5 separate regions of the Homo sapiens genome follow, and regions 1, 2, 4 and 5 are each linked to region 3. Evidence: fine-mapped expression QTL. A gene starts in region 3. Each other region holds a variant in brackets. All regions are shown on one strand. Distances are from middle to middle.

Region 1 (5,105 bases), 93 kb after region 3:
CATATCAGCTCACTGCAACTTCCACCTCCTGGGTTTAAGCGATTCTCCTGCCTCAGCCTCCTGAGTAACTTGGATTACAAGCGCCTGCCACCATGCCCAGCTAATTTTTGTATTTTTAGTAGAGACGGAGTTTCTCCATGTTGGCCAGGCTGGTCTTGAACTCCCGACCTCAAGTGATCCGCCTGCCTTGGCCTCCCAAAGTGCTGGGATTACAGGTGTGAGCCATCACACCTGGCCTATTCTTATATACTCGTTTATTGAGTTTCAATTTTTTTCTTTGCTAAAACTGCAGATTACTAAATATTGCTTTATAAAAAAGATGAAGGAAAATAAATGGTTATTTTCCTTGCTCATTGTTATCTCTTAGCATTTATGCTAACTGCATCAAAACAGCAGAGAATACTGCTCATCCTGTTTATTTTTTAAAATTCAAATGTAATTCAAATGTAGTTTTAAAAGCCCTTTCCCTCACAGTAGGTTGAAGAAGAAACAAGAGAAAGTCTTTCTTTTCCAATCTCCATCTTTGCTCCTGTCCTAGAAGAGGCGCCGCTAATCTGATTAGGTTCTAAAACAGTGAATGGCACACTTCTGCTACAGTGAGAGGTCACTAAAGTGCACTTTTCCCTTTTACTTCTCCTGGGACAGCAGGTGCCTTCTAGGCAGAGACATTTGCTCTTTTTTCTCTCCTCTATTTCTCTAAACCTTCAGGAATCCTCAATTCTGCTGGGCAGAAAGACTCTACTTATGTCCTGAGCCTAAATTTTGTGCTGCAGCATAGCTTAACCAGGATCCCTAAAGAGGCAGTTACAGGAACCTACTTGAAAATAAAGGGGAACCTGCTATGGTGTCTTACATGCTGTTATATCTTGCAAACCTCCTTCTAGAACCTCAAAGGAAGTGGAGATGGCTGGGCCGAGGCAGGATTTGGGCATTCTTGAGTCCCCAGCCGAGGGCGTCTGTCGACGAAAAGAGTCAAACTCCGTAAAATATTTGAAGAGATTTATTCTGAGCCAAATATGAGTGACCATGTCCTGTGACACAGTCCTTCCTCAGGAGGCCCTGAGAACATGTGCCCAAGGTGGTCGGGGCACAGCTTGGTTTTATACATTTCAGGGAGGTGTGAGACATCAATCAAATACATTAAAGCTATACATTGGTTCTGTCCAGAAAGATGGTACATCTCAAAAGCAGTGGTGGAAACCAAAAGTTTTATCAGGCAGATGAAGCCTCCAGGTAGCAGGCTTCAGAGAGAATAGATTCTAACTGTTTCTTATCAGACTTAAGGTCTGTGTTGATATTAATGGCAGAGAGGTGTAATGAGGCATGTCTAACCCTCACTTTCTGTCATGGCCTGAACCAGTCCTTCAGGTTGAATTTTAGAGTGCCCTGGCTTAGGAGGCCATTCAGATGGTTGGGGGGCCTTGGAATTTATTTTTGGTTTACACCTCCTTCATGAGCATGTGAACTGAGCTATCGCTCAGAAGTCCCCATACAATGCTCTGCTGTTGCCATCTTGAAGTTATCAATATTTTTTGCTTAACAAGGGGACCCAAATTTTTATTTTGCACTGGGTTCCAAAAATTATGCGGCCAGTGCTAACCTAATCCTAATAATTAACTGCACTCAATCCTACCATTACTTCTAAAAAACACTTCCTTTTAAGGAGGAAGATTTAAGTTTCAGTTTGTTCTTGGTTTTAGCTTTTCAAACACTGTTCATGTAGGTTTTGGGAAATATACTCTTTCTTTCATCTTTTGTATAAACCTTTTACATTTCTGAACTCCTAAGAAAACTTTGTACTCACATTGAGATTTTTCAAAATTTAAACTAGAGCTTGCTTTTCTAATTTTCTTAAACACTTTTGGAGTCTTAAGTCATGGGGTAGATTTTGCTTCTTTTCATTGAATTTTTAAAATCTGTTTGCCAAAGGTGTACTTCATACCTAACTCATAAATTCCCAAAAGAAAATGCATTGAGCAAATATATAACACAAATAAGAAATCATGTAATTTCCCCTAATTTTCCCTTCATCTGAAGGTACCTGTCTTAGTTATTTTCATAAGTCTATGTAGCTACACCTTGCTTGCCACTAGAACTCCCTCTTCATTCAGGTAGGAGGAAAATGATTCACAAACCAATTTCTAAATTATTTATCCAGTCTTTCTCAAGAAAATAGCCTTTCTTGGAATGGTAGAAAGTAACTTTACTTGGCCAGATGCAGTGGCTCACACCTACAATCCCAGTACCTTGGGAGGCTGAGGTGGCAGATCACTTGAGGTCACAAATTTGAGACCAGCCTGGCCAACATGGCAAAACCCTGTCTCTACTAAAAATACAAAAATTAGCCCGGTGTCATGGGCGTGCCTATAATCCCAGCTGCTTAGGAGGCTGAGGTAGGAGAATTGTTTGAACCCTGGAGGTGGAGGTTGCAGTGAGCCGAGATCCAGCCATAGTACAAGTGAGTGAGACTCCATCTCAAAAAAAAAGGAAAAAGAAAAAAAAAAGAAAAGAGACTTTACTATCTCTAATGGATGTATTATCTAGAGTAAAGTTTAGCAAAATACAGTCTTCAGGCCAAATCCAGCCAAGGCCTGTTTTTGTACTGCCTGGGAGCTAGGAATGCTTTTTATGTAATTTTAAGGCTTGTAACAAATGAATGAACAAAGAGTATGCGATTCAGAAAGTCTAAAATATTTACAATCTGAATTTTTACAAAAAGAAGTTTGCTACCTCCTGATTTAGAGAGCAGTAACAATTTGCCTTCCCTCCCCACTGAAGTCATAGTAGAAAAAAATTACCCTAAGCTATAGTTAAAGAAACTTGTGGTTGTTAAATTAAATTTATAGGAGCCCATTGATTTAGACTGGGCTCCTTCACCAGGCCTCAGTAGATCAAACCAAAATGGAGTCACTTATGCTAAAATTCCAGGCCACCTTGGCCAGGCGCTGTAGCTCAGGCCTGTAATCCCAGCACTTTGGGAGGCAAAGGTGGGAGGATCACTTGAGCCCAGGAGTTTGAGACCAGTGGGGGCTATATAGGGAGACTCCGTCTCTACAAAAAATGAAAAAATTACCCAGC[T/C]GTGATGGTGCACACCTGCTGTCCCAGCTACTCGGGAGGCTGAGATGGGAGGATCCCTTGAGTTCTGGAAGCCAAGGCTGCAGTGAGTGGAGATCACGCCACTGCCCTCCAGCCTGAGTGACAGAGCGAGACTGTCTCAAAAATAAAAAGTAAAAATAATTCCACACCACCAAGACAAAATCAAGTTGTTTGCTTGACCTTCCAAGAAATCAGGAAATCCAAATCCCCAGATAGGCCAGTTTTAGCTGGCATGACAAGGAAGTCCCCTCTGCTTTAACCTTTACAAGGAAAGTAACTGTGAAACAACCAGTCTCTGTTCTTTGTTTCTGCTATCTTTGGCTATTTATTTATTTATTTATTTATTTATTTATTTATTTGACAGTCTCACTCTGTTGCCCAGGCTGGAGTGCAGTGGCACAATCTCGGCTCACTGCAACCTCGGCTTCCCGGGTTCAAGGATTCTCCCACCTCAGCCTCCCGAGTAGTAGCTAGGATTGTAGGTGTGCACCACCACGTCTGGCTAATTTTTGTATTTTTAGTACAGATGGGGTTTCACCATGTTGGCCAGGCTGGTCTCCATCTCCTGACCTAAAGTGATCTGCCCACCTCAGCCTCCCAGATTGCTAGGATTACAGGTGTGAACCATCGCTCCCCACCTCTTCAGCCTTTTTCTGTAAGTAATACCCAGGTTGCAGAACTGTATTCTCTGAACTTCTGGTTCTAAGGGCTGCCCAATGTGTAGACTGTTCTTTGCTCCAGTAAACTGTTACATTTGTTTTGTCTAAAGTTTTTCTTTTGTTGTGGTCTTCAACACTCACTGGGCCCTTAATCCCATAGTTCCTGGTTCTTTCTCCCTCTCTCCCCAGCAGCCATTTCTACCAAGTTGAAGAGCACTGCATTGCACTCTCCGTTCGTGGCAAGCCTACAGTCCTAACTACTAAGCTTTCTAGGTGAAACGCTTGTGGTTTGCACTGCTTGCTATAAGCCAACCTGGCTGCCCCAGTCAGGAGTCAAGGCAGCCCAGCTCAAAGTGAGTTCCTCCCACTCAGAGAGGTCCACAGGGAACTGTACCCAATGGGGATGCTTGTTGCAGTGAATATTGGCTGACCCCTCCCGTCAGACTTTCTTTTAGTGAGTACAAATGTTCATGAGATCTCCTAAAGGGAGCTCTCCAAAACCCCGCTAGGAGATCAGAGCTGGCACCAGGAGCAGAAAGGCCGGGCAGCGAGAGCAGACACCCCCGAGCCTGCAGGGATGGGGCGGGGCCAAGGGGGGTATCCCATGCCCCCAAGGGGAGCGTGGTTCGGGGGAGGGAACATCCCAGGCTCCCGAGGGTGCAGGCTGCAGAGATGCCCAGGTCCTGAGCCTGGGAGGGCAGCCACAGCTGCACCGGCAAAGCTCCTGCCCCACCAACTCGGAAGGGTCGGAGTTCCTGCTTTTCCCCGGCTCCTGCTTGCTCCGTGAAGTGGAAGGCCTAGGTCTGCAGCCACAGGTTGGGTGGTTGCAGCTGCACCCAAGTGGGCAGATCCTGCCTCTTCCTGGCCTCCTCCAAGAGAACAGGGAGGCTTCCATCCACAGCCACAGTTGGGCAGCTGTAGCCCCGCCCAGGAGGGTGGGGCTCCCACCAGTTGCATGGTGTCTGCAGCCCCGCCTCGCCTCCCTGCTGCAGCCAGTGACAGCAGCCACTGCCATCACTACTGCCTGAAAACGGTCTTTTGCTGGTCAATTCTGCACAATTGCAGTGGTTACTGTCTTCATATATGTGTGTCATTGTTTGGATGTTTGATCCCTTCAAATCTCATGTTGAAATTTGGTCCCCAGTGTTGGAGGTGGGGCCTACTGGGAGATGCTTGGATCATTAGAACAGATCTCTCATGAATAGATTAATTGGGTGGGTGGTGGGTGAGTGAGTTCTCACTCTATAGTTCCATCAAGAGCTGGCTGTGAAAAAGAGCCCAGCACCTTCTCCTCTCCCCTACCTTTCTCTTTCTCACTTCCTCTCTCACCATGTGATCTCCACACAGCAG
Region 2 (5,105 bases), 82 kb before region 3:
CCGGGTGTGGTGACGTGCACCTGTAATCCCAGCTACTCAGGAGGCTGAGGCAGGAGAATCACTTGAACCCGGGAGGCAGAGGTTGCAGTGAGCTGTAATTGCGCTACTGCACTCCAGCCTGGGCAACAGAGCAAGACTCTGTCCCCAAAAAGAAGAAAGACGTTTGGGTTCAGTAGCTAAGAAGGTATTAACTGAGCTCTATGCCGTTACGCTGTGCTGTTAGACACAACCAGTCTCCAGTTACTTACTTGAGAGAGGTTAAGAGTTTGCTTGTGTCCTTGTTTTATTTCACCTTGGTAGTCTGTGGGGTGGCTTATTAAATTCCATTCATAGTTGTAGGTTGTTTCTGAGAGCAAAAAATAAATATGAGTAGTTATAAATTCTGAGAGGACACTAGATAACCTGGGCAGAGGGAAGATGACAGCCTTTAAACCACCAGTGCAGATTACCTTAGATATACTCAACTCAGCTTTCTTTTTTTTTTTTAACTTATATATATATTTTTTGTTTATTTGTTTTTATCCCCTCACTCTTGTTATCATCTTATGAACTTGACTTTCAACTATCAGCCAAGATAACATGTATCTTCTTAATGTAACATTTCTTTTTTTGTTATAAAAACATACGTCTTACAGGAAATTTTTAAAATGTATAAAGTTAAAAAAAAAAAAACCTCCCTAACTTAACCATTAGTATGTGATGAGTTTTTTCCTAGGGGGCTACATCTGACTATCCATATCAGTTTTAACATAGTATAATACATTGTGCTTTTCTCTTTTTAACAAAAGGCAAGGAGATTTCAATTCATTTGATCTGTTGTAGGGGTTTATTTAAGGACACAAAAACAGTATAAACATGTCTATGTTAAGATGAAACTGTCTCCCAGCTGCAGATATTAGTAGTTAAAATATAAGGTACCTCACCTCAAAGGATTAAAATGCAAATGCCAAATATTATCATCTCTGTGTATAAAATTTTGACCAATATGTGGTGGAGAAAAAAATGAATTAAGGAACTAACCTGAATGAGAAATAGTCAAACACCTTAAGAATGAGTTTACCTTAAAAACAATGCATTTGACAGGCCACAGGTCCCAGGTCAAATGCTTACTGAATGGTAGAGCACTGGACAAGTAGAAGAAAGAGCATTTTGAATAAATTTTTTTGAGCAGCTAGTGTGAGGCATCCTGAGAACCTGAGAGCCGTGATTGTCAATGCCACAGTATCTGCAAACAAACCTATGGGTGCACGCCACTTCCCTCTCATCCCGGTGGAATCTTCCCAGGTTCTATGGGTTATTACAGTTCAAGAACTGGTACGTGGCAGCCTCTCCTGATCTGCTTTGCATCATCAGAAATTTATGACTTTCCATCCTGACCAATTAAACGATATATACTGTATTTAATTTCCTAGATTCTTACTCCATTTGAAACTATTTCAACAAATGTTGATGCTTAAGAATAATCAAAGCCTTGTCCTCCACCTTTGTTTGTGACGTCGTGCAATACTGTGAAAAAGAATCGGCGTTGTAAATAGCCTGTAAGGACCTGCTGAAGAAAAACACCCCAGTTCCTAGTGGTCAGGGAGGAAGGTTAAACTCTCACCTACAGGTGGCGCTGGCGCAACAAAGGCCTTCAGTTCAACTTCATTGTCGGGTAAAGTTATAATTAGGTTATCTCCAGCCGATACCGTAAGTTCTTTCACTAAAAGTTAATTAGAAATAATACGTGCAATTATATAATATAATGTGTTACATTACTGCTCTACACTAGATCTGTTTTTGGTATCCATAAATTAAAATAACATATGCTTTTGTAATAGTTCTTCATAAGATTTTAGCTAAGGCACGTTTTTCCTCTGGCTAGAAATTGAACTGTACACTATATTATAGTACAGGGTTTTAAACCACAAATATGAGTTGGCACTGTGACAAAAATAATGATTCAAATTGACTGAGCAACGTATTGAGTGACAAGAGTTGCGTGAAACAGGTTTCATGCAACTGTGAATTGGGTCCATTTTCTCCCTTGCTATCAGCTTTTCTTGACGCCCTGGTGTGAGCTATTTTTAGTTATAAAAAGATTGAGTGTAATCCTAAGTGTTTCTGTCTCATTAGTCACACTCCACTCAGTTCTGAT[A/G]GTAGCCTCATGAATTACTGCTAATGGCCTTGTACTTGGAACCTTTCCAAGACAAAATCCAGTCACCCTCAATATAAAAAACCTATTTTAACTTAAGCAGCAGGAACATTAACTCTTATCAAAAGTGCTTAGCCACCAAGTAAGCATTCAGAACAATACTTGTTTACTTTCTCTGTAACCAGATTACATTGATATATTCATAAATTCTATCGGTTTGGCTCCATTGGACATTAGTTTCACTTGTAAAATATATTGCGATATGTCCAGATACTACACAGAGAAAAGCAAAGATTTAAAAAAAAAAAAAAAAAAAAAAAAGCTGAGTGCTCCAGAGGGATCAGCTGCAAGGAGATGTCAGACAGGTTGTTCATTTAATCCACTCCCCTCCTCTCAGTCCTCAGTCCCTCGAGTGCCTCCTAGATCAGCTGCAGAGGCTCTCAGTGGCTTTGCTGGCTCCTCTCTTGTCATTTTCACTAACTCTTTATCCTGAAAGTCAGCAACTGTAGACCTAGAAGGGACATTGATCCAAACCTATCATGTTATAGGTGGGGAAATTAAATCCTAGAAAAGCAAAGTTGTCCAAGGCTGTATGGTAATTAGCAATAGGTCCACCAATATTTAATTTAAATGTATTCATTTCAACAAACACTTATATACCGGATTAAACTGTGCCAGGCATTGCCCCAAGGGCTTTAAAATGATCAATTCATTTAATCCTCATTACAACTGTATGCAGTAGGTTCTATTAAAACCCAAAGATCCTGGGCCAAACTCCCAGGCCAGTTTCTTTTTCCGTATACTACACAGCTTCTCTCCCACTATTATCTTTCTCTCTATGGAAGCTCAGGCTCAAAGTAAATACAAAAGTTAGAGAGAGTAATCTCCAAAATACATGGCCCACAGAAAAGCTCAGGAAACATGACCCTTACGTCTAGCATATTCTAATAACTTCCTTATTGGAAAATCTAATGGAAGCTTTGCAATCCTCACCACAGCCTCTGCGACACATGGAGCTTTGATACGTCTTCCCTTTTGGAACTACAGGAGACCAGAACATGCCACCCCAAAATATGATTTGTGAAAGGGAAATAAATCTCGGGACCCCCAAATCACTAAGCCAAAGGGAAAAGTCAAGCTGGGAACTGTGTCAGGCAAACCCGCATCTCATTTTATTCCTAAACGAGATACCTACAAAGATTAAAAAAAAAAAAAGCTACATGCCTTCCTTATAATTTGCCCACAAGAAACTCCTTGTGGGCCTCAAGATCTTTGCCCTAAAACAGTTTTGTTGAATTTCACCCTGGCAATGTAAATCAATAGCTTATCTTCACAGGTGCAGGGGGTGGGGGAAAGAGCTCAGCCATCCCTCTGCTCACCTGAGACAAATGCATATCTAATTGTTTCCTCTGCCCTATTGTTTATGAAAAAATACAGATTCACTGAGCCAGACAAGGCATAAGTGACTATTCCTCTACCCCCTCTGGCAAGTAAATTGTGTATTCAGTGAAAGACTGATCAAAGACTCAAAAGAATGCAATATTTGTCTCTTATATACCTATGACCTGAAAGACCCCCTTCCAGTTGTCATGCCTTTCTGGACCAAACCAATGTACATCTCACACATACTGATTGATGTCTTATGTCTCCCTAAAATGTATAAAACCAAGGTGGCCAGGCACAGTGGCTCACACCTGTAATCCCAGTACTTTGGGAGGCTGAGGCAGGTGGATCACTTGAAGTCAGAAGTTCAAGACCAGGCTGGCCAACACGGAGAAACCCTGTCTCTACTAAAAATACAAAAATTAGCCGGGAATGGTCATGGGTGCCTGTAATCCCAGTTACTCAGGAAGCTGAGGCAGGAGAATCTCTTGAACCTCGGAGGCAGAGGTTGCAGTGAGCCAAGGTCACGCCACTGCACTCCAGCCTGGCCACGAAGCAAGACTCCGTCTCAAAACAAACAAAAAAAAACAAGCTGTACCCTGACCACCTTGGATACATGTCATCAGGACCTCCTGAGGCTGTGTCACTGGTGAGTCCTTAACCTTGGCAAAATAAACTTTCTAAATTGATTGAGACCTGTCTCAGATACTTTTGGTTCACAGACTGTAGGAAACTAGAATATGCCATTGCAACTATAACTCTTTTATACAAGGATTATTTTGAGCTGTGTTTTTTGTTTGTTTGTTTGTTTGTTTTGAAGAAACAGCAGACCAAGAGGAGCTCTGAAAACAGAGTAGAAGTTACTCCTTTGTAAGGGGAATTTATATCTATAAAGGAAATCTCCATTTGTAAGGGTCTCTCTCCTTCTATACCAGGAAGAGAAGGGTGACTACATTCCAAGAGATCCACATCCATAGAGAAGGTCCTGACAAATCTGCATAATGAACCTCACTCTTGCTTACTTCGTTTATTCTGGGCACCTTTGGCCACTTGCCTTCCCCACAATCCTCTTTCCTTGTTTTAGTTCAAGATGCTATATAAGCCAGAGTTCCAGGCTTATATAATATAAGCTTATATAATAAACCTCTCTGAGATTTCCTCATTTCCCTGGGCATCTCCCACGTATAGGTAAGATGTACATGTTATAAACTTGTTTTTTTTTTCTCTCTTGTTAATCTATCTTTTGTTACAGGGGCACTAGCCTAGAACTTAGAAGGGTAGATGGAAACTTATTCTATCCTCCTCCATAGAACTCTCTCCCTCTAGCTTTCCTCTTTATCTCCTACCTCTCTGGCACAACTACCCAATCAGTTTTGCAGGCTCCTTCTGCACTTCCAGCTCCTTATAGAACAATGTCCCCAAAGTTCCAGTCCTCAGGCCTCTCCTCAGCTAACCCCCCTCTCTCCCTGGATGATCTCCTATGTCCCCCGTGTCTGCAACTATCACCTCCACACCGATGACTCGTAATCCTTTATCTTCAGCCCAACTGCTCATCTAATTTTAGTTCTGTATTTTCATATGTCTTAGC
Region 3 (5,105 bases):
CCAATAAGGAATAATGGGCCCCACTCAAGACTAATGAAATTAGAATCTCTGGTTTTTTTTTTAAATTCCCCAGATAATTCCAATATGCAGCTAAGATTCAGCATAGCTGTTTTAAGAGGATTTCCCTTGTCTCTCATCAGAGACACTGAAGATAGATTCTAATGTAGGGGACTAAATCACTTTAGTGTTCAATTTCAATTTTTGTTGATATCCCAGGAATTCACTCCAGAATTGAGATTCCTGCGCCATTCATTTAAGACAGCCAATGCCCTTGCTCAGCAGGGTTGAGTTTTTCTGGTCATAAAATCTTCCAATCAATTTTTTTTTCCCTTTCATTTTTGCTAAAGCCAACATCAAAAATCTAATCAGGTCACAGGCCTTAGAAACACGCTGAAGTTTGCCCCTTCCCCATTTTTCTCTCTTGAGCAAACTAAACTTTAAAACCTCACTCTCATTCATACTTGACCTGAGTTCTGAGAGACAAGAGACCACAGCCTAATCAACACCTTTGCTTGTTTTTGCCAATTTACCATTCCGGGGTAAGAGAATCCTAATAGCCATGACACCATTGATCAGCTTGATCCGCATCTTTTCTGAGGGCCTATTACAGGAAATCCACTTATTTTGTTACTATTTATTGGTTACAATATAGTCTGTTGCAACCAACAGACATTAACTCAGGTTGGTTTGACCAAAACAGGAGAATTTATAAGGAAACAAACATGTCACAGAGCCTGGTACAGAAATACAGCCATGTTTAAGGAAGGGCAGTTAAGGGCTTTCTCTCAATCCTACACTTCAACTTCCCTCTGCTTCATTGTCTCTCTGCAGACCTCTGTTCTCAGCTTCTCTGTACACAAAAAAAGATATGTATGAATCCTCACAGGTGCTAAGTTAACATGTTACAGTTCCAGCTCCATAGGAAGACTCAGACTTGACTCTCTTGGTCCTAATTCTGAAACCAAGGAGAGGATCTGACTGGCCAGTTTGAGCTAGGCAAACACCTCCTAGTCCAACTTGCTCTGGTTAGTAAAACGGGAGCCAGAGACAAATCACTGTGGGTGAGTAAACAATTCCCCAACAAGAGGCAAGACAGAGAAAGGAACCTAAAGAAAATATCTTATCACATCTGTAAGCCAGTGTAGCTGAAAAGACCAAAGGGAAAATAAAGTCTCCACTATGAACAGTCAATTTTACAGGTTGTACATATAGCTGGGAGAATTTTATACATTCAGTAAATATTTATTGGGAGCTTATTATGTGTCAAATGTTGTGTCAGACTTTGGGAAATTAACAATGTACAAAACAGATACTCCTTACTAGATGTGCAGTCTAGTAGGAGACATAAAATAATGAACAGCAATTATAATACGGACTAAGGTATTGTAACAGGGGTCATGCAGGATGCTATAAGAGTACCTAAAAGGGGACTCTTACCCAGACTTAGGACATCAGGAAAAGCTTCCTAGAGATAAATCATGTCTCAGCTTGGGGCTTTAAGACAAATATTAGCAAGGAAGGGAAAAGAAAAAAATTCCAGGCACAGGTAATAAAGATCTTTACGAAGTTTCAAAGACAGGAGAAAATGACCCGTTGGAAAAAAGTAAAAGTTTGATAGGCCTGGAACCTGGAAAGGCAGGTTCTAAGTTATGGAGCCAAATAGTAGAGGGCCTTGTAAGGCAGCTACACTTTTTAAGTGCAGGAACTGGAGAGGGGCACTGAAATAACAGGAGTAGGTGTGCATTAAAAAAAAATAACAACAACAACAAACCTGTTATTCTGGCCGGTCAGCCTAGGGCCTAGAATAAATAAACAATACAGGAAGCAAGGAGACTTCCAAGTTGCCATTTTTCGATAGAAGGTTTAGCCTTCGTTCATTTGTTTCAAACCTCTCGCTTACTTATTTCCTTTCATTTGAGTTAAACATTACATTTCCATCTTTTCCTCCCTGGACCCCAAATCACGTTCGAAGCGACAGTCTGGTGCAGTGTTAGATCCGCTGCTGGGGCGCAACTCCGCGCAGCAGCAGCAACGCAAGCCCTGCTCCTCTGGCTACGCAGCTTGGAGATCTGCCTCAGCATCGTCCGCCCAGCTCCACGGCAGGTCCCAGGACGCGCAGGGCTACCTGGTATCAAACTGCCTCCGTGCGGACTGGCTCCCGCTCCCCTCATCACTTACTAGGTCTTGGGCTCAGAGATGGTTTCAGGTCGGCGTTCCAAGGCGCTCTCCTCCACCGGAGGCTCGAAGTAGGAGTTCAGAGCCCTCTGAAAAACAAAGGCACAAGGGATGAGGTTTGTGCGCTCCACCGACCTAGGTAATGGAGCCGGAAGCGAGGACAGCGAAAGCGTACTTCCATCTCCCAGTCGTTCTCGGCCAGGAAGCACTGAGCCACTGCGGCATCGCAGCTTGCGACCGAGGCAAACTCCACACACAGAAGTCGCCGCTTTTTCACCTCAGGCTCGCCCTCTTCCTCCGCCGCCTCCCTCCCGCCCTCCAGGCAACTCCCCAACTCCATCTTCCTGCCGCCTCTGCACCGCCCCTTTAAGCGGAACAGGAGGCCAACGCGCGGCTCTGCGCAGGCGCCTGTGTCATGGCGCTCCCGCATCAACCGCCCGGCGGGGAAATGCGCTGCTCTCGGAAAACTGGTGCAGCTGCGCCGCAAGGGAGCCGCCGGGGCGGTGGGTGCGAAGCGCGCATGCGCGCTTCGTCACAAGGGTGCGAGGAAAGTCAGTGAGCAAATCGCGGACCACCGGGGCTGCCAGCTCGCCTGACTCCCGGCCTCTTGCGCTCCTAGGGGCGGAGAAGGGTGCGGGCTCTTCGCCCTTTGTGTCCTCCTTCTTTCACTAACTTCTGGACTTTCCAGCTCTTCCGAAGTTCGTTCTTGCGCAAAGCCCAAAGGCTGGAAAACCGTCCACGATGACCAGCATGACTCAGTCTCTGCGGGAGGTGATAAAGGCCATGACCAAGGCTCGCAATTTTGAGAGAGTTTTGGGAAAGGTATGGGAAAGGTAGGGGAGAAGCCGTGGCTTCTAATGAAGGAAAAGAAAGCACCGTGCTTGGTGCCGTTGTGAGCTTTGAATAATTATCTCTTGTTAGGTTGTGTTCTAGTACGCCTGTAAATTCACCTTAGTAATAATGATTATTACTTTAATGGAGCCCCTAAATATGCTGGGTCGAACGCGTAAGTTCTCTATCTAAACATAGATAAGTATGGTTATGACTCGTGGAGACAGTTCCAAGGCTGGGAGGGACTTTGGAGTTTGATCCTTCAACCAACAAACGTCTGCATTGCTCCAGAGAAGAGTAAGAGAAACCTCTGCATTTAAGGCACATTACAGTCTAATTCTCTAGGCTCTAGAAGATTAGAAGATAAATAATTGCAATAAGGTACAAAAGCCAAGTGCTTGGTAGAGTGGTGAACGAAGGGAGAAGTTGTTCCTCTGTAGTGGTTTGGGAAATTTCTCAAAGGCACCCAACTCCTGAAGAAGTAAGTTAGCCCTTGGAGGAAGACTGAGTGCTTTTCTGAGACCAGCACTCACAAAGCCCGAAGGTGTTTGTTTGTTTTTGTTTTTTTAGGATGAGGTTTCGCCCTTGTTGCCTAGGCTGGAGTGCAATGGCGCGATCTCGGCTCACTGCAACCTCCACCTCCCTGGTTCAAACAATTCTCCTGCCTCACTCAGCCTCCCGAGTGGCTGGGATTACAGGCATGCGCCACCATGCCCAGCTAATATTGTACTTTTAGTAGAGACAGGGTTTCTCCATGTTGGTCAGGCTGCTCTCGAACTCCCGACCTCAGGTGAAACGCCTGCCTCCGCCTCCCAAAGTGCTGGGATTACTGGTGTGAGCCGCCACGCCAGACCTTGAAGGTGTTTGTTGTTGTTGTTGTTTTGAGATGGAGTCTTGCTCTGTTGCCCATGCGGGAGTGCAGTGACACGATCTCGGCTCACTGCAACCTCCGCCTCCTGGGTTCAAGTGATTCTCATGCCTCAGCCTTCCAAGTAGCTGGGATGATTACAGGCATGCGCCACCAAGCCTGGCTAATTCTTTATTTTTATTAGAGACAGGGTTTCATCATGTTGGTCAGGCTGGTCTCAAACTGCTGACCTCAGGTGATCCACCTGCCTTGGCCTCCCGAAGTGCTGGGATTACAGGCATGAGCCACCATGCCCCGCCAAAAGCAGGGATTTACTGAAAATGAAAGGACACTCCTGTGTTTGGGGTGTGGAGCAGCAGCTCAGGGGCCCTAATACCCCATTGAAGTCTCCTATTGGCCACTTGGTACTCATCTCATGTAAATGAAGTGGTGACCCACAATTGGCTGTGAAAAGCAACCAATGAAAGGCTAAAGTGAAGTTACAAAGTTGCCCTTATATGCAAACGAAGACGTGGCGTGCAATCAGATGGTGAAGTTACATAGTTACACTCCTATGGGAAGATCTGATTGGTTGCAGAAAGAATAATTTTTTTTAAGGGATAACTTACTTCTTAGCGTAATTTTGCTTTTTGCAACCAATCAGAGGTACTTTCAATTTCCCATCTGCCACACAGAAAAGGTGGGGGTTTGGAAAGGGAGAAGCCTCTGGTTCTTTTGTTACTTGGTGTGGGAAGTTAGGGTTTTACTTTCAATTTAGTTCTAGGAAGTCAGCGTGAAACAGCCCTAGGTTCCCTGCCTCCAGATCCGATTCTCCTGCCTCGCTTGTAAGAAAATCATGCTCCATAAGAAGCATTTATAACTAAACCTTGTGAACCCCAAAAATTTGAGACAGGTATCAGTTAATTTAGAAAGTTTATTTTGCCAAGGTTGAGGATGCGCACGCAGTGACACAGCCTCAGGAGGTCCTGACAACATGTGCCCAAGGTGGTCAGAGCACAGCTTGGTTTTATGCGTTTTAGGGACATATAAGACATCAATCAATATATGTAAAATGAACACTGGTTGGGTTCGGAAAGGCGGGACAACTTGAAGCGGGAAGGGGGCTTCCAGGTCACGGGTAGGTGGGAGACAAATGGTTGCATTCTTTTGAGTTTCTGATTTACCTTTCCTAAGGAGGCAGTCAGATACACATTTATCTCAATGAGCAGAGGGATGACTTTGAATAGAATGG
Region 4 (5,105 bases), 28 kb after region 3:
GACTAGTTAACTCTAAGACTTAAGAGCCAGCAAAGGAGACTGGGGAGTGGCTGGGAGAGTAGGAGGAAAACCAGGAGGAGGTGGTGTCATGGGAGTTAAGGGAAGGCTAGGAAAAGTTCACGACGTCACCAAATGCTGAGAGGTCACTTAAGGGAAAGAGAGGCTGCCAAGGGTCCTTTGAGTTTTGTAGTTAGGTCATAGTTGACCTCGGCAATAGAAATAATTTTAAGAAAATTCATGCCAAACTATACAAACCAAAGTTTCTGTTTGATAATAGTTTTTATAATAAGGATGCAAATTAAAGTGGTGTTGTTTTGGGGACAGGGTCTCACTCTGTCAGCCAAGCTGTAGTGCAGTGGCACGATCACAGCTTACTGTAACCTTGACCTCTTGGGCTCAAGCGATCCTCCCCACCCCAGCTTCCCTCGGAGCTGGGACTGCAGGCACATGCCACCATGCCTGGCTAATTTTAAAAAATTTTTCTAGAGTTGGGGTCTTGCTGTGTTGCCCAGGCTGGTCTCAAACTCCTGGGCTCAAGCAATCCTCCCACCTCAGTCTCCCAAAATTAAAATGTTTTGATCACCTGTGATATACCAGGCCTTGTCCTAATTTGAATTTTAATCTTAATTTTTACAAAACCCTATAAGGGCAGTACAGTACATTATCTCTATCAATGGGGAAACCTCAGTTCAGGGTCTTGCCTAAGTCTGCTTCCAGAGCCAGTACTCTCAACCATTAAGCGGAAGCCACCTGTGTAATGAAGCTACTGAAACATACATTATAAAGCAGAAATGCTGGACTGATAACAGCAATATGGTTGAACCATGGTACTTTTATAGCATCTACCTTTCTAGAGCCCCTTGAACATAAATGTCATCTGTGTTTGTTGCTGTTGCTACCCCATCACACTGCCACATCCTGTCTTTTTACCTCCTTTCCTGCTTATATGAAGGTGCATTCATACACTGTCCTTAGACACACCTCCTGTCATCTGCAGTGTCACACACAAAGTTAGCAACATCCATGGTCAGGGAAAATTGCTTGAAAACAGCCTTATTCACAAATATACACATACAAAATTGTCATCCATTAAGATTGTCTGTTTTTCTTTGTGCTTCTGTAGACAGTCTTCTTTTGGGGGTGGCTCACGTGTTTATGTACACAGATTTTCTCATACCATATGTCACACTCCTGTGCTTGAGGCCCATTACAGACACCCTTACTGAGCCAGAGACATACATTCCTTTATCTGTTTAGCAGAGGCAGTGGAGGCAGTGGTGGTGAGCTGCATAGCAGCCAGCAGCAGTTACAGTGATGGCAGTGGCTTGTTTATCCCACTGCTCAGCAGAATGCAACCCTTTTAAAAAAAGACCAGAATGATCTGAGATGCCAAGGCTTAAAGAGAATTCTTGGTTCTCAGCTTCATAAAGGACCATCTCAGTGATGAATAACAGCATCTTCACTGCTGTTATTAGGCAGCCCTTCTCCCTATCTATCTTTGCTGAAAAAGTGAGGAAAGGAGAGACTCTGTGTCATGTGGAGTGTCTCTTTGTGATGAATTGTATCTCAGATGGGAGAGGGAGGGTGAGGGGCTATGGCAACCTGAGTCTTTTTTTTTTTTTTTGAGACGGAGTCTCACTCTGTCGCCTAGGCTGGAGTGCAGTGGTGCGAACTCGGCTAACCTCCACTTCCACCTCCCAGGCTCAAGGGATTCTCCTGCCTCAGCCTCCCAAGTAGTTGGGATTATACGTGTGCCCCATCATGCTTGGCTGATTTTTGTATTTTTAGTAGATACAGGGTTTCACCATGTTGGCCAGGCTGGTCTTGAACTACTGACCTCAAGTGATCTGCCTGCCTCGGCCTCCCAAAGTGCTGGGATTACACAGACGAAGTTGCATAAACTCATATGAATGCATGAAGTGCAAGGAAGAGACAGCACGATATAAGGCCATATATAAAAGGGACAGATTATTGTATATGTGTGTGTACATGTAAGAATTGTTATGATATACTGAGGAGCCCATTGTGGCAAATAGTGCTGAGCCATAAAAGTTCTTGCCAACCTACTGCAATTGTCCAACCTGCAGGATCCTGGGACTGAACACATCTGGACAGTTCTCTGTATTGTTAGGCCATGGCAGGTAAATTTTTGACCCCTTGACATCATAAAAGCCTCCATACCATCTTCACCAAGACACCTAAGGAATCAGAACCCAGTTGTCTGTAGCAGTCCAGGTGATATTTGAGGGTAGGCTGTTTTGCATAATGGTTAAACCTGAGACATCCTAGTTAAACTTT[T/C]CGACAGTTTCTCATCTGTAAAATGGAGACAATAGTATTCACTTCAAACATTGGCAGCACTGAGACAGCACATGTCAAATTGCTCAGCATGGTCTCTAACATGGAGTTAGCTATGTTGATATAACTGAATAAACAAGTGTGTGCCCTACAGCCCATCTTTACCAAGGCTGAGATGTTTTTTTCACAAGGTTCTCTCCCTACTCCCCTTCCTCATCAGAAAGAAGTTAGCTTTGCATTGGCCTCTTCCCCAGCAAGACTACTTATTAGCTCTGGGAGGGTGGGCAGGACATTCCTTCATCATCTTCCGTTGGTTTAATTCTCTTATTTGACCTGAGGAGACAAGAATTGAGAACATATAAAGGCATTTATATTGCCATATCAGGCTGCCCAGTAAAAAATTCTCTCTATTCCAATGTAAATTTTAAAACAATTTTATTAGTATGTCCTTTGGCCTTTCAAGTTGGGGGGAAAAATCAAAACCAGTATTCTGTACTAGAAAAATCTAACTGACATTTGTCTTACATTTTGTCATCCCAGCCAAAGTTAGGTAATCAAATGGAACTTTAAGAACTAAGCTTTACTGAACAAACTGTGCCTTAAAATACACTTAAACTGAGGCGCGGTGGCTCATGCCTGTAATCCCAGCATTTTGGGAGGCCGAGGTGGGTGGATCACCTGAGGTCAAGAGTTCAAGACCAACCTGGCTAACATGGCAAAACCCCATCTCTACTAAAAATACAAAAATTAGCCAGGCATGGTGGCACGCACCTGTAGTCCCATCTACTCAGGAGGCTGAGGCAGGAGAATCACTTGAACCTGGGATGCAGAGGTCGCAGTGAGCCGAGATTACACCACTGCACTCCAGCCTGGGTGACAGAGCGAGACTCTGTCTCAAAAAACAAAAACAAAAACAACACATTAAAACTACCTTTGCTGTCTACAAGCCGCTCGTATTTAGTTCTATTTCTTCAACTGCCTGGCTTTTTCCCTTATCTTCACCTGGATAACTCCTGCCTGTTCTTCAAGACTCAGATGTCGTTCTCCAGGAAGCCTTTCCTAATGTCTTTTCCCTGGAAATATACATTTTTAAAAGTTAGATATCTTTACTCCAAGAAACCTGTATTTATTCTGTCTACAACAGTTTCTTCCTCTGCAGTTTTTGTACTTGTCTCTTCCTTTAGACACTGAACCCGCTAAGAGCAGGGATTAAACTTCATTCATTTTTTACATTGCCAATGCCTGCTATAAAGAATCACATAAATGTGTGAATGAGGTTAAGTTTACACCTTATTCCTGCTCGGTGTGTATTATTTAGTTTATGAGGACATCTTGTGGCTAGATCATTTATTGCTATAAACAGACGATCATAGGCCAGGCGCGGTGGCTCACGACTCTAATCCCAGCACTTTGGGAGGCCAAGGTGGGTGGATCACCTGAGGTCAGGAGTTCGAGACCAGCATGGTGAAACCTCATCTCTCCTAAAAATACAAAAATTAGCTGGGTGTGGTGGCATGTGCCTGTAATCCCAGCTACTTGGGAGGCTGAGGCGGGAGGATTGCTTGAACCTGGAGGGCAGAGGTTGCAGTGAGCCGAGATCAAGCCACTGCACTCCAGCCTCAGCAACAGAAAAGGACTTCATCTCAAAACAAAAAACAAACAAAAAAACAAAAAACAAAAAACCCAACAACAAAAATCCTGTTCTAAAATTTATTTTTGACATTGATTTACCTGTTTTGCAAAACATGACATAATATTGTTTAGGATGTTTTATATCGCGTGGTTCTGTTTTCCTTCAGGGCCTTCAACAATAAAACCACTAAATAGGTGGTTTGTGAAACTCTCAAATGTCTTCCTGGTGGGAGTCATACCTAGAGGTTACTCATATATAGTTAGTGATTGGGAGATGTGAAGGTGGAAAGACCTACATCTACATCTCAGTTTCCATCACATCTTGGGTGATCTTGAAAATAAATCACTCTGAATTTAAGTTCTCTGCAAAATGGATGTTGTCTCTTCCTTACTATATAGTATATGTAAAGTGCTTGGCACAGTGCCTAGCATATCAAAGTGCCTAATAAATGGTACTTATCTAGAATATAACCAACCATTTAATGCTTGAGACATCCCCCTACTCCCAAACACAACAGACACACCAAATACTCATCCATATTCTTCCTGAACACCTCTAGTGAGGGTGGAAATTACTGTTTTGGATGCAGCACATTCCACTCACAGCTCAGCTCTAACTTATACCATGATATTATACCCTGATGGTTTTTCCTAGTAATTTAAACACAAATATATAAGAAAACTTACCTTTCCATAAGTTGCCTTTTTAAAGATGTTTGATATAAAAATCATAAATTCTTTTTTTTTTTGAGACTGAGTCTCCCTCTGTCATCCAGGCTGGAGTGTAATGGCATGATCTCAGCTCACTGCAACCTCCACCTCCCGGGTTCAAGCGATTCTCCTGCCTCAGCCTCCTGAGTAGCTGAGATTACAAGGGCACGCCACCACACCCGGCTAATTTTTGTATTTTTAGTAGAGACTGGGTTTCACCATGTTGGTAAGGCTGGTCTCAAACTCCTGATCTCGTGATCCACCTGCCTCAGCCTCCCAAAATGCTGGGATTACAGGCGTGAGCCACCGTGCCCAGCCAAAAATCATAAAATTTTAAATGCATTGTTGCATATGTTTATCTTTCATGTAATACTTTTTCCTTATACTTACTATAAATGGGCCAAAACCTTAAAAGCAGTAACTTACTTTGCTGGATTTTATTGTTACATTTACACTTTATACTAACA
Region 5 (5,105 bases), 49 kb after region 3:
ATAAACCCAGTGTAAGTTACACGTATTTTAAATCAAAAAGTGACTTTTGAACTTACAACAATTCCAATTTACAATGACTTCACCTGGATGTAGTCCCATCATAAATCGAGGAGCACAATGAATTCATATGGCTTTCACATCATGGTAAAGTTGAAAAAATCTTAAGTCGAACCATTATAAGTCAGGGGAATCTGTATACAGTACTTTCTTATGTATGTAACCAATGGATTATTTTTAAAACTTAGTTGAATTAATCTTAAAACATTAAAAATGATAATTATTAGAGCTTATGTGTAGCAACATTACCATGGGGCGGGAGAGTATATCAATTTATACAGTCTGTGAAAAACATAAGCACCACAAAGATACTTCAGGGTAATAAGTAGAAGCAAAAGTTTTAAATGACAAATAATCCTCACAATTAGCTTAAAATAAAGAAGCCTTCTAATATTTGATTTAGTGTACTTAAAATGAGTCCTTAATATCATTTTTCTGATTATAAAAGTATACTTAAGAAAATCGTGGCAATCTATGCCATAAATTATAAAGGAAACACAAATGTAAATATATATATTAAAAAAGGAAAGTTAGCTATACCTGACCTACAACTAAGCATAATTAACACTTTGGTGGACCTCCATCTTCTATGCATACAAATATACTGTAAATAAAACTAGGTTCAACATGAGTAAATGCCCTTAACACTAGAGGGGGGATTCACTTGAGCAATGTCTAGTATACCATGACAAACAGTCAAAAGTCAGCAAGATTTTAAGGTTAAGAATGACTACTAAATTTACTTCTTTCTTCTATAATTTTATATACAGATCAACTTCTACAAAATGATTTCTTCACCCATTTCAGATCACATTCCTTTGGGAAGCAGCAGTTAAATATACGGTTTTAGAAGGATGTGTGGTGAAGGCTTCAAGAGTTACAGATCTCAGAAGCTCATCTGTGGGCCCCTCTATAAATCAGTAAATGTCCACTTTAAAAGATTTTCTCTAGTCATAATTTCAAAGCCACACTGGGCAGGTGGAACCACCACACTGTCAAGAGATTCTATAATCCAAACGCTTTCTTCTCTTGCATCACAATATTCTAAATAGGGGAGACTCGTGAAATAAAACTATCAGAAACCATTTTCCCAAAGAATTTCTCAAGTTAGACCCTATTATATTCTAGTAGTTTTCACATATTGAAATACTCATCACACTTTAGACCAAAATACCTGAACAGGCCTAAAAGGCTCATCAGATTCTTTCCACCTAGAAAACAGGAGACAGACGATTTTTTCAATATCATTCCGAGGCCAAAGAATGAAATCCATCTCCTGAGTACAGCCAATTACATCCTATAAAATGATTAAAAAAAAAAAAGTTTACTTTTAAAGAAACAGCTACATCAAGCCATGTCACAAATTATAGGGTTCCCCTATAAAAACATTTTATAAGTACAAAAGATCTACCATATATCATTTTATATCTTAGGAAGTAAACATAATAGTTTATAATCTGAATAGCTCATGATGTAATTTTTTATTTTTGGAGACAGAGTCCCTCTCTGTGGCCCACACTGGAGTGCAATGGTGCAATCTCCGCTTACTGCAAATTCCGCCTACCAGGTTCAAGCGATTCTCGTGACTTAGCCTCCCGAATGGCTGGGATTACAAGTGTGTGCCACCATGCCCCGCTAATATTTTTTGTATTTTTAATAGAGACGGGGTTTCACCACGTCAGCCAGGCTGGTCTCGAACTCCTGACCTCAGGTGATCCACCCACCTCAGCCTCCCGAAGTGCTGGGATTACAGGCTAAGTCACTGTGCCTGGCTCTAATTTTAATTTTTATCTTACAGAGAGTCACATACACTCAGTCCAATGCTCCTAACACCAAGACCTAGACTTATCAGTGCATGGTGAAAACTCCAACAAAATCTCTGATATCTGTTGTATTGTCAGACCCTGAACCTTTATTTCCACCTTTAAAAATCAATCTATTTAAAAAGATGTCTTAGAACTCCTAATATGAATCACTATCCTATTATAGCTGAAATGCTATTTTTATTTTGATAGAAAACTACTTTTCTCCATTCCTGACTTCTGCTTCATTATTGTAGCCAGCATATTAATTTTTGAAGGTCCATAATTTCTTCCAGACCAGTATCTGGTTATCTCCAGCATTCTCCCCAAGTAACTGTGGGGATCTCTTGGTTCAGGTATGCCCAGATTAACTTTTAACATGTTGCAGAAGTTTACAAAGCTGGAAGCACTTCCTTATATTCATATTCCCCCCAAAAAAGGAAATACAATAAACGGAGACATAAGACATTTATCCACAATAATAATACACAATATTATGAGCCTAATACAACAAAGTTGTCCATGTTTTACTCAAGGTCAAGTTTTCAAAAACAAACCTACTTCAAAAATTTTTAAACTTTCTGCATAACACTTAAATTATTAAAAACAGTTGGCTACTGGCAGGGTGCAGTGGCTCACACCTGTAATCTCAGCACTTTGGGAGGCCAAGGCAGGAGGATCACTTGAGGTCAGGAGTTCCAGACCAGCCTAGCCAACATGGCAAAACCCCATCTCTACTAAAAACACAAAAAATTAGCCAGGCATGGTGGCGCACAACTGTAGTCCCAGCTACTCGGGAGGCTAAGGCAGGAGAATCATTTGAATGCGCGAGGGCAGAGGTTGCAGTGAGCCAAGATCATGCCACTGCACTCTAGCCTCAGCGAAAGAGCAAGACTTTGTCT[C/CA]AAAAAAAAAAAAAAAAAAAAAAGTCCGAGATCATCAACACCTAACACAGATTAAAGAAATCCCTTTATATACTTCATCCACATAAGAATGGTCTGGCGTAAAAAAACGTGTTTTTCTAATCCTATAAACACAATGCTTTAAAGTCATGATCCCAGTTATCAACATGGCACAAAGACAAATTTACCTGAAGAGACTGGTCACTATCATAACTATCCACTTTAAGGGGGGTTCGGGGGGCGGGGAAATGCAAGGTTAATCCACAGAAACTTTATCAAGTCAAGACTTAAGGCAGAACTTACCCTTCTCATAGACTGATATCGAGGAGCATGGAGCTGTACCACATCCTTCTGTAAAAGCTCTAGGGAACTTTCCAAGGAATAGCTGGAATCTCGCACACCTTTCAGGATATTTTCTTCATAATTATTTGTCATGACTGGTATAACCTCAGACACTTCAAAAAGTGCTGACTTTTTCTTCTAGAAGAAAAGAAAATGGTGTATTAACCCACAGGGAGCACAGCCTTTTAACACTCAGTTCATATTACAATGTCATGTAACATTAACTCCACAAAATTCTTAACTGTCTGCAGTAACTTATACACTGAAAACACATTTTCAGATAGGTAATTCCTTCTGTTCTTCCCCTACCTCCCCCTCCAACCATACATGTACAAACTGTCATTAGAATGTTTAATGCTTGAGTTTTATAGCATAATGGTATCCATAGCACTATTTTGGACAATACTTCTTAAAATTAAAAATCTCACCAGTTTTAAAACAACGCTATTCAGACAAATGAATAGTTTTATTCCTTATATGGGCCAATTTCCATTACTTTCTCAATATTACATTATCAAAACCATCAATATTTCTGGTTTTTCTTTTTTTTTTTTGAGATGGAGTCTCACTGTGTTGCCCAGGCTAGAGGGCAGTGGCACCATCTTGGCTCACTTGCAACCTCTGCCTCCTGGGTTCGAGGGGATCTCCTGCCTCAGCCTCTCGAGTAGCTGGGATTACAGGCCTGCGCCACCACACCTGGCTAATTTTTGTATTTTCAGTAGAGACAGGGTTTCACCATTTGGCCAGGCTGGCCTTGAACTCCTGACCTCAAGTGATCCGCCTGCCTCAGCCTCCCAAAGTGCTGGGATTACAGCCGTGAGCCACTGCACCCAGCCAAAACCATCAATATTTGAAAGACTAAAAAGAAGCACACCAAGTTCTCTTTTAATACTACTCAAGACCAAGTACGCATCACTAAACTACTTTTTAAAATTCTGTACTATTAAGTATATATCATGAATTATTCAGGGCAACTGCATGGACACTGTCCATTCACAGAATAAAACCAGATTATCGTTGGTGTTAAAGAATTAAGATGGTGCAATTTGGGGCAATATATAGATTAAATACAAAGATATGGTCTCACTACTTATTATCTTGGATTTATTTAAAGAGCATACACTGTATCATCTTCAACTAAAATCCAATCTCATCAATTTTGAGTCAGCTTGTCAACAAAACAAAAGTGGAGATGTAAGTCCTTGATACCACCCAATCTTGGGACAGTCACTTCAAAAATTACTTAAAAATCACTTCACAATGCTATACTTCAGCAGCTAAGAATGTTCTTAAATACAAATAACCTTTTAGGAGTTAAGAGTTGGGGCTGTGCGTGGCAGCTCCTGCCTGTAATCCCAGCACTTTAAAATGCCATGACAGGAGGATCACTTTAGCCCAGGAGTTCAAGACTAGCCTGGGCAATACAGTGAGGCCTGTCTCAGCAACAAAAATAATAAGAGTTAAACAGTAGGGGGAAACCTGGAAAACTTCCAGATACTTAATAGATACCACACTAAGATTGTATTTCTGATCTGAAATTAGCTAACAATTTAAGCACCAAAATCCAAGTAGCACTTCCTTACATTCATAACCTCATCTTTGGTCAAATAAGCCTTGCTGATAATTTAAGAAAATGTTCATTTTAAGTTGCAAAAAATACTGCTCTTATCATCCCATCCTTGACTACTCACAACTTACTGTTTGCTATTTAACTGCGGAACTAATTCTGATTAAGACCTCCACCGCCCCTAAAAATGAAACTTCCTCTAGGTCATTTTGAGTTTTTAAAAACTGTACTTCTATACAAGGCAAAATGAACTCTAAGTAAAAAAGAAAATCACACTTCTAAACACAAATTAACCATTTCAGTATTTAATTGCTCCTAAAAGGTGTATTCTACTTCATTAAATGTAAGAGAAAAGGTTACCTACATTACGCAGTTTAAGAAACAGGATAAACTTTAGCATATAAACAGTCTGATTACAATTTCACACTTTCAACCATC

Evidence for each region. PIP is the estimated chance that this variant, and not a neighbour inherited with it, causes the effect.
Region 1: its variant is fine-mapped to the expression of TDP2 in whole blood (TOPMed, PIP 0.98).
Region 2: its variant is fine-mapped to the expression of TDP2 in atrial appendage (GTEx, PIP above 0.99).
Region 4: its variant is fine-mapped to the expression of TDP2 in whole blood (TOPMed, PIP above 0.99).
Region 5: its variant is fine-mapped to the expression of TDP2 in skin (TwinsUK, PIP 0.95).

Annotation. Positions count from the first base shown.
Region 1 is chr6:24,756,975-24,762,079 of GRCh38, forward strand. No RefSeq gene overlaps it. Among named protein-coding and RNA genes, the nearest start is that of GMNN, 15 kb to the right of the region's middle. RefSeq lists a silencer at 860-1,061. The variant T/C (reference allele first, on the strand shown) is at 3,079.
Region 2 is chr6:24,582,001-24,587,105 of GRCh38, forward strand. KIAA0319 reads right to left here. Exons shown (of 21, transcript NM_014809.4): 5 at 1,604-1,702; 6 at 249-346. Among named protein-coding and RNA genes, the nearest start is that of KIAA0319, 62 kb to the right of the region's middle. The variant A/G (reference allele first, on the strand shown) is at 2,138.
Region 3 is chr6:24,664,348-24,669,452 of GRCh38, forward strand. TDP2 (tyrosyl-DNA phosphodiesterase 2) reads right to left here and starts at 2,552. Exons shown (of 7, transcript NM_016614.3): 1 at 2,351-2,552; 2 at 2,179-2,264. The coding sequence starts at 2,515. It overlaps ACOT13 (acyl-CoA thioesterase 13), which reads left to right and starts at 2,730. Exons shown (of 3, transcript NM_018473.4): 1 at 2,730-2,997. The coding sequence starts at 2,917. LOC124901279 (a long non-coding RNA gene) reads right to left here. Exons shown (of 2, transcript XR_007059509.1): 2 at 4,770-5,105. RefSeq lists enhancers at 1,598-2,270, 2,271-2,942, 2,474-2,768.
Region 4 is chr6:24,692,118-24,697,222 of GRCh38, forward strand. All of the region lies in intron 1 of ACOT13 (acyl-CoA thioesterase 13), which reads left to right. LOC124901278 (a long non-coding RNA gene) reads right to left here and starts at 3,654. Exons shown (of 2, transcript XR_007059508.1): 1 at 3,227-3,654; 2 at 1-2,628. The variant T/C (reference allele first, on the strand shown) is at 2,299.
Region 5 is chr6:24,713,087-24,718,191 of GRCh38, forward strand. It overlaps C6orf62 (chromosome 6 open reading frame 62), which reads right to left. Exons shown (of 5, transcript NM_030939.5): 2 at 3,062-3,238; 3 at 1,232-1,354. Among named protein-coding and RNA genes, the nearest start is that of C6orf62, 3.5 kb to the right of the region's middle. The variant C/CA (reference allele first, on the strand shown) is at 2,762.